2 linked regions of the Homo sapiens genome follow. The protein of the gene in region 1 purifies or fractionates together with the protein of each later gene. This does not show direct contact. Each region holds a gene or a part of one and is shown in the gene's direction. Other genes may lie near its edges. The genes, in order: ABHD8 and RIC8B.

Region 1 (3,818 bases):
CTTTGGGAGGCCAAGGTGGGCAGATCACCTGAGGTCGGGAGTTCAAGACCAGCCTGACTAACACGGTGAAACCCCGTCTCTACTAAAAATACAAAAATTAGCCGGGCATAATGGCAGATGCCTGTAATCCCAGCTACTCGGGAGGCTGAGACAGGAGAATCACTTGAACCCGGGAGGCGGAGGTTGCAGTGAGCCGAGATCGCGCCACTGTGCTCCAGCGTGGGCAACAGAGCAGGACTCCATCTCAAAAAAAAAAAAAAAAACCTTATTTAGGAAACATTTTTCAAATCTCCAAAAGTGTAAACTGTATTTAAAAAAGCAAATGACTAGCCCACAGGCCGTACATAGTTTGTTGACCCCTGCTTTTGTAGGAATGAGGAGCTCAGCTTTGGGGGCTTCTCAGGCCTTCCATCTTGTATAAGGAAGACAGATATGTCATGCCCAGAGGCAGGTGGCAGAACATCCTGAAAGGGAAGGGATAGTAGGAAACAGTGACCTCCCCTGGGCAGCCGGAAGCATTTGTTTAATCAGATTGCTTTCCTACCACTTGCTGATGAGTAATTCTTACCGCTTTTGGGTCATGGTGGCTTGAAGAATCTGATGAGGGCCGGGCACAGTGGCTCATATCTATAATCTTAACACTTTGGAAGGCCAAGGTGGAAGGATCACTTGAGCCCAGAAGTTCAAGACCAGCCTGGGCAACATAGTGAGACCCCCATCTCTACAAAAATTTTAAACAATTAAAATAAAAAGTCTGGTGAAACTTCTGGATCCAGATTCTCTCTTCAAAATAAGTTCCATCCTCAACACTCAAACTCACACTTTCACGGTATTTGAGAGGCCGCACTCATCCCTCACCCCTTCAGGTGTCCATGGACCCCAGGGGAAGAATCTTGGCTTCCAAGGACCTGCCTTCTGGGTAGGGGGAGGACATGAACCCCCTCACCAGGCCGGGTGTCACGGCTCACGCCTATAATCCCAGCACTTTGGGAGGTTAAGGCCAGAGGATCACTTGAGCCCAGGAGTTCAAGACCAGCCTGGGCAACATAAGGAGACCCTGTCTTTATAAAAAAATTTTTAAAAATTAGCTGAGCATGGTGGCACATGCCTGTAGTCCCAGCTATTCAGAAGGCTGAGGTGGGAGGATCTCTTGAGCCCAGGAAGTCAAGGCTGCAGGGAGCTATGATTACGCCACCGCACCACTCCAGCCTAGGCGACAGCGAAACCTTGTCTCAAAAACAAAAACAAAACAGGCCAGCCCAGTGGCTCATGCCTGTAATCCCCGCACTTTGGGAAGCCAAGGTGGGTGGATCACTTGAGGTCAGGAGTTCTCGACCAGCCTGAGCAACATGCTGAAACCCTGTGTCTACTAAAAAATACAAAAATTAGCCAGGTGTGGTGGTGCATGCCTGTACTCCCAGCTACTCGGGAGGCTGAGGAAGGAGAATCAGTTGAACCCAGGAGGCAGAGGTTGCAGTGAGCTGAGATTGCATCACTGTACTCCAACCTGGGCAACAGAATGAGACTCCATCTCAAAAACAAAAACAAACCAGGCCAGGCGCAGTGGCTCAGGCCTGTAATCCCAGCACTTTGGGAGGCCGAGGCGGATGGATCACTTGAGGTCAGGAATTTGAGACCAGCCCGACCAACATGGTGAAACCCCATCTCTACTAAAAATACAAAAAATTAGCCGGGCGCGGTGGCGGGCGCCTGTAGTCCCAGCTACTCGGGAGGCTGAGGCAGGAGAATGGCGTGAACCCGGGAAGCGGAGCTTGCAGTGAGCCGAGATTGCGCCACTGCAGTCCGCAGTCCGGCCTGGGCGACAGAGCGAGACTCCGTCTCAAAAAAAAAAAAAAAAAAAAAAAAAATTACCTGGGTGTGGTGGTGTGCGCCTGCAATCTCAGCTACTCGGGAGACTGAGGCAGGAGAATCGCTTGAACCTGGGAGGCAGAGGTTGCAGTGAGCCAAGATGGAGCCACTGCATTCCAGCCTGGGGGACAGAGTAAAACTGTCTCAAACAAAAACAAAAACAAAGCAAAACAAAATGGTCACTGCTTGTATCCTGCTGACCGCCTCCCTTCAATCCTCCTATCACCCCACCCGTTCCGGGCAGTGTCTCTTTCTGCACATTCCTGGCACATGAGTACCCAGACCTAGTGCACAAGGTGATCATGATCAATGGCGGGGGCCCTACGGCGCTGGAGCCCAGCTTCTGCTCAATCTTCAACATGCCCACCTGCGTCCTGCACTGCTTGTCGCCCTGCCTGGCCTGGAGCTTCCTCAAGTGAGTGTCCCCACCCCAAAGACCGTGATCCTGGCCCTGGCGAACCCAGGCATCTGCTCGAGTTGGATGGGAGGGGGGACTGTACCGCTGGGACTAGGGCTGGCATCGGGGGCACCCCACGGCAGTCGGGCTGGCATAAGGGGCTCTAGCGGTGCCTCCACCACCACCAGGGCCGGCTTCGCCCGCCAAGGAGCCAAGGAGAAGCAGCTGTTAAAGGAGGGCAACGCTTTCAACGTGTCATCCTTCGTACTCCGGGCCATGATGAGCGGCCAGTACTGGCCCGAGGGCGACGAGGTCTACCACGCCGAGCTCACCGTGCCCGTCCTGCTTGTCCACGGCATGCACGATAAGTTTGTGCCGGTGGAGGAAGACCAGCGCATGGCCGAGGTAGAGGCGGGCACCTGGGGCGCCACAGCTACAAATCCCCAGGGTGCTGCCCGGGAGGGGCGTGGCCTCTGCGGGGGGCGTGGTAGCGCTTGGTGGGCGTGCTTTCTTCCCGAGGGGGCGTGGCTGCCGGGTGGGCGTGGCCTCTAGTTGCTGTATCTTGTTCTGACCCCAGGCAAACAGGAGCATTAGGTCTAGCATCAGAAGTAGAATCTAGAAAGCAGGGCTGCCCTGGACAGGTGTTAGCAATTACGCACTGTCCCCACCGCTGTAAGAAGGCTCTCCTCACAGCGGAGGATTTGTATGAGACCGGTGACCTATATAATTCTAGAAGACCGGCACCAGGGGATCTTTAGATTAGAAACTCTAATTAGCGAGTTCAGATTAGAAAGGGTCTGGGGATCCTTAGCACTTAGAATAGCCCTGGATACTAGCCCGGCGAGGTGGTTCACGCCAATAATCGCTGCAACTTGGGAGGCTGAGTGGGGCGGATCGCTTGAACCCAGGAGTTCAAGGCTGTGGTGAGCCATGCTCGCACCACTGCACTCCAGCCTGGGCGACAGAGCAAGACCCCGTTTCTTAAAGAAAAAAAAAAAAAAACAAAAACCATTAAAGTATAACTGGACTGGTGGTTCTTAACTAAGGAGGATTCTGCCCCCAAGGAACACGTGGAAATGCATGGAGACATTTTTAGGTGTCACGACTGAGGGGGAGGGGGTACTACTGGCATCTAGTGGGTGGAGGCCAGGGATGCTGCTCAACACCCTACAAATGCACAGGATAGCAGCCCCCACCCCAGCTACCCGCCCCTTCCCCGCCCACCCCCGCCCCCCCAGCAAAGAATGATCCAGCTCCTAATGTTGGTAGAGTTGAAGTTGACAAAATCCTCCTCCAGGCCGGGCGCGGTGGCTCACTCCTGTAATCCCAGCACTTTGGGAGACCGAGGCGGGCAGATCGCCTGAGGTCAGGAGTTGGAGATCAGCCTGACAAACATGGCGAAACCCCGTCTCTACTAAAAATACAAAAAATTAGCCGGGTGTAGTGGCGCGTGCCTGTAATCCCAGCTACTTGGGAGGCTGAGGCAAGAGAATCGCTTGAAGCCGGGAGGCAGAGGTTGGAGTGAGCCGAGATTACGCCACTGCACTCCAGC
Region 2 (3,818 bases), on another chromosome or scaffold:
TTCACTATACCACAATAACAACGAATATTTGTTCTGTACAATTCACAACTCTTTGGTCTACCTTATTATTATTATTATTATTACTACCACTACTTACATCTTCACTAGTCAGTAGGTACAGCCAAGATTATCACGACCCCCATTTCACTGGTAGGGAAACTGAGACTCGGAAGCTTGCCCAAGATCACACAGCTGGTAAGTGGAGGAGAACCAGGACTTCAGACAGACTTCCTGACTCCAGATCTTTTTTTTCTTTCCATGACATCACATTGCTGCCTTAATTCATTTGCACAATGCATGATTGTATGGCCAGTGTTCACTGACACCTTTCCTACAGAAGTATCAATGAGCCCAGGCATTACGTAGAGCCATGTGGAGAAGAAAATAATTCATACCTTCAGAGGAGCTTCCATTTTAGTGGGGGTTGATACAAAGCACCCAGAAAGTAAATGCTTGAGAATAGTTCACAAGTAAGAATTAAAATATAGGCCCGTTGTTCCATAATGAAATCCTATAATTTGGCCATAAAACTAATATTTTTAATTATTTGCATAATTGGATTAGGGAGCAAGGGTAAAGCTGATAGACTTATTTGAAAATATTACTTCTGGGTTTAGATGAGAAAGTGCTAGATACTTCACACAAGTTAGTAGCTAGCCCCAGAATCATCTTTTTATCAAAGAGATGCAGTAGTTTTAGTCTCAGGAGTGATGGTATATCCACCCAGCAGTTTATCACTCAGTCCCATCTGCCAATCCTACTTTTACCTATCCCTACCCTTCAGTCCCCACCCCACACCTGAGTTTACCAACCCCTTCAGACCCTCAGTGTTTCATTCCCAGCAGGTTCTCCCTCTTCTCCTTTTGCTTCAGTTGTTAATATGTAGTGTCCAACATCACAAAGTCCTTTAGCACAATCAGAACTAGGAATTTATTTAAAATATAGGTATGTAATTTACGTCAGTGCTAGAGAGAAGTTTTAATGGAAACGTTGTTTCTAGCTCTCCACTGAACATTTCTACATGGTTGTCATGTAGGCACCTCAAGCCCTTCAAGTCCTAAAATATATCAGAATCTCCCCACCAAATCTCCATCTCCTATGTCCTGGCCCCATTGAATAGAGTCACCATCCACTTGGTCATCTGAGCTGAAACAACAGGAACTCTCTACTTACTACTCTCATTCTCCAACCCCTTTTCCTCCCAGTGAGTCATGAGATCTACCTCAGAAATGTTGCCTTTTCTTCCCACAACCTCAGACTTAATCCAGCTGTCTGTCTCCTCCCCCACACACTATTATGATGACCCCCCTAATGACTTGTCTATCTGCCACCAATTCCAATGTGTCTATCATGCTGCTGCCAGAGGTACTTTCTTATAAAACAAACGTAATCAAACACTCTTTATAGGGTAAAATCTAAACTCCTTATTTTGGCATTTAAGACATTTTTGACTATTGCATCCCAAACTACCCTTGCAGCCTTACCTCCTGCCCCTCCTTCATTGAACCTCACCATTCCCCAAACACTGGGCCCTTTCCCGGCTTCATGAGAGCACAGAGATAGAAAAGATGAGCTGACACAATCCAAAAAGGTTTAAAAAGATAGAGAATCACACACGTCAGTGGGACCATTCAGAGCTCTTTACAGTCTCTTTTATCTGAAATGCTCTGTGCCCATCTGCCTAGTGCAGGGCCACTCACTGACACCTCACTTGACAGTGCCCTCCCCAGGCAGCCTGGTCAGTGCTTCATCTCAGGAGCTGCCTCACTTCTTTGTTCATAATTCTCTTACAGCATTTACCTCATTCTGCTCAAAATGACTTTTGCATATATTTGTTTTCCGTGCTCCTCAAAGGCAGCAGCTGTACCCAGTCTTCCTTACCTCCCAGTATATGACATAGTTCCTGTCACATAGTCATTGAACAGATGTTGAAGACATGAACTCAGTGTGCTCCTCCAATGCAGTTAGGGCAATTAATCCAGATGTGGTGGGCTGCAAAGATCACTGGACTAGGATTCAGGAGACCCATGTCCCAGGTCCAGCTCTGCCACTAGATAAGTGACCTTGGATGAGTCATTCAGTCTCCTTTATTAAAGAAGGGGGTTGGACTAAATGATCTCTCAGACCCCTTCCAACTTTAAGTTCTATGATTCTGACCCCATTTCTTGGATTGGGAAACACATTTCCTCCCTCATAGTATTCAGGAGCCTCAATTTAGCCTGTCAGACGTTCACATTTCCCAAGCAAAGCTTTCAAACACTTCGAAGTTGTCTACTGAGCTAGCCAGAGCTCTTCATTAGGCTCCTGTTGGCTTATCCATTGACCACTGAGCTGTTCTCACTCCTCCCCAGGAGATTTCACTGTGTCTGTAACACCATTACACTACTGTGTGGCTGCCCCTTCCCAGGAGGGAGCCCTTCTTTCTGTTGGCCTAAGGGACAACTGTGAGGAGGGAGTCATTTCCCCTCCATCCAAATCCCACCAACATTATAGCTGCTGCCATGTGGGTTTTTGCTTATGGACATGTTTTTGGGGGGTGATGCCCATTTCTGTGATAAATAAGTTTTAAGCAGTTCATGGGGCTCTTCAAGGCCACTCTTAAGTACACTGCTGACCTTTCTAGGGATGGGAGGACTGGAGTTAGCAACTCAACAGGTACATTCACCATAATCTCCATGTAATAAATAAGAGCCTATGAAAAGATTAAATAAATCTTTCCTAATGCTTTTTGACTGGCTTAATCAATAATTAATCATCTTTAGATGAGGCTGTAACTTGTGGAGTAGATATAATTGGATTAGCTGAAAAGCGGCAGTTGCGGAGCTTTGAAGAGATTAAAATGGCTGTCAATCCCATAATTAAACTGCCACAAACAAAAGCAATGGTGTTTTTTAGAAAGGAGGAGGAGGAGGAAAGAAAGAGTGAAAGAGAGAGAGAGAAGGAAAGAAAAGTCGGGGAGAGAGTTGGGGAAGGCCAACTAATTTGAAATGAATCAACATGTACTTACATATCACTAGAGACTGAGGCAAAATCAAAACCGACAGATTTATTCCATTGAATGAAGTGTATGCATATCAAATCAGCCATTTAATTGTATGCTCCAACCACTGGGGCAGGTGAAATTTTGGCAGCTTCAACTTGTCTAAAACAAAACCAATCCACCAAAAAAAAAAAAAAAGGTTAATTATTCAAAACAGAAGAGACCTGCTCCTTGTCCTGAGCCCATTTAGACCTTGACTTTTCATACTTTTAATTGGCTTAGTAGGTTTGGCCTGTGTGAATGAAGTCTTTTATCTCCCTCTTCCCTCTTTTTCTTTCCATGCCCCTTTCATCTTTCCTATTACAAACACACAGAGAAAGCTCAAGGGAAAATACTTTGGTTTTTAAAGACTTTTCTTTTTAAAAGGTTGTGGATTTGGGTGGGGGGGAGGGGTGTGTGTGTGATGCTGGTGAATACTTTTTTTTCTCTCTCTTTTATCTCTTTTTCTAGAGAGGAGTTGCTTAAACCAATGGGACTAAAACCTGATGGGACAATAACGCCTTTGGAGGAAGCACTCAACCAGTACTCTGTCATCGAAGAGACCAGCTCTGACACAGACTAAAAGCATCACCTGCTCAACTCTCAATATTGCTTTATCAGCATCTTTTCTCTGTAGCTCCAGGGGAATCTTTTCTCTAAAACATTTATGCCCTTGCTTTGGCTAGAAACACATTAACTGGTTTACTCATTGAGAATCCAGCATATTTAAGAGGTGACCCTGTGTTTTTTGTGATATTGAGGCATTCATACAGAGCTGCAGTTAGACGGGGTTACGGGG

The links.
Region 2: the proteins of ABHD8 (region 1) and RIC8B purify together in Homo sapiens (affinity purification with mass spectrometry; one large-scale study listed by BioGRID and IntAct). This does not show direct contact.

The regions. Positions count from the first base shown.
Region 1 is NC_000019.10:17,293,141-17,296,958, reverse strand, and holds part of ABHD8 (protein ABHD8), read left to right. Parts: intron 1-2,113; coding exon 2,114-2,284; intron 2,285-2,454; coding exon 2,455-2,671; intron 2,672-3,818. UniProt on the Homo sapiens protein: Negatively regulates NLRP3-driven inflammation. Promotes NLRP3 degradation through the chaperone-mediated autophagy (CMA) pathway, hence attenuating inflammasome activation and IL1B secretion.
Region 2 is NC_000012.12:106,882,414-106,886,231, forward strand, and holds part of RIC8B (chaperone Ric-8B), read left to right. Parts: exon of another isoform or gene 1-3,031; intron 3,032-3,490; coding exon 3,491-3,602; 3' UTR 3,603-3,818.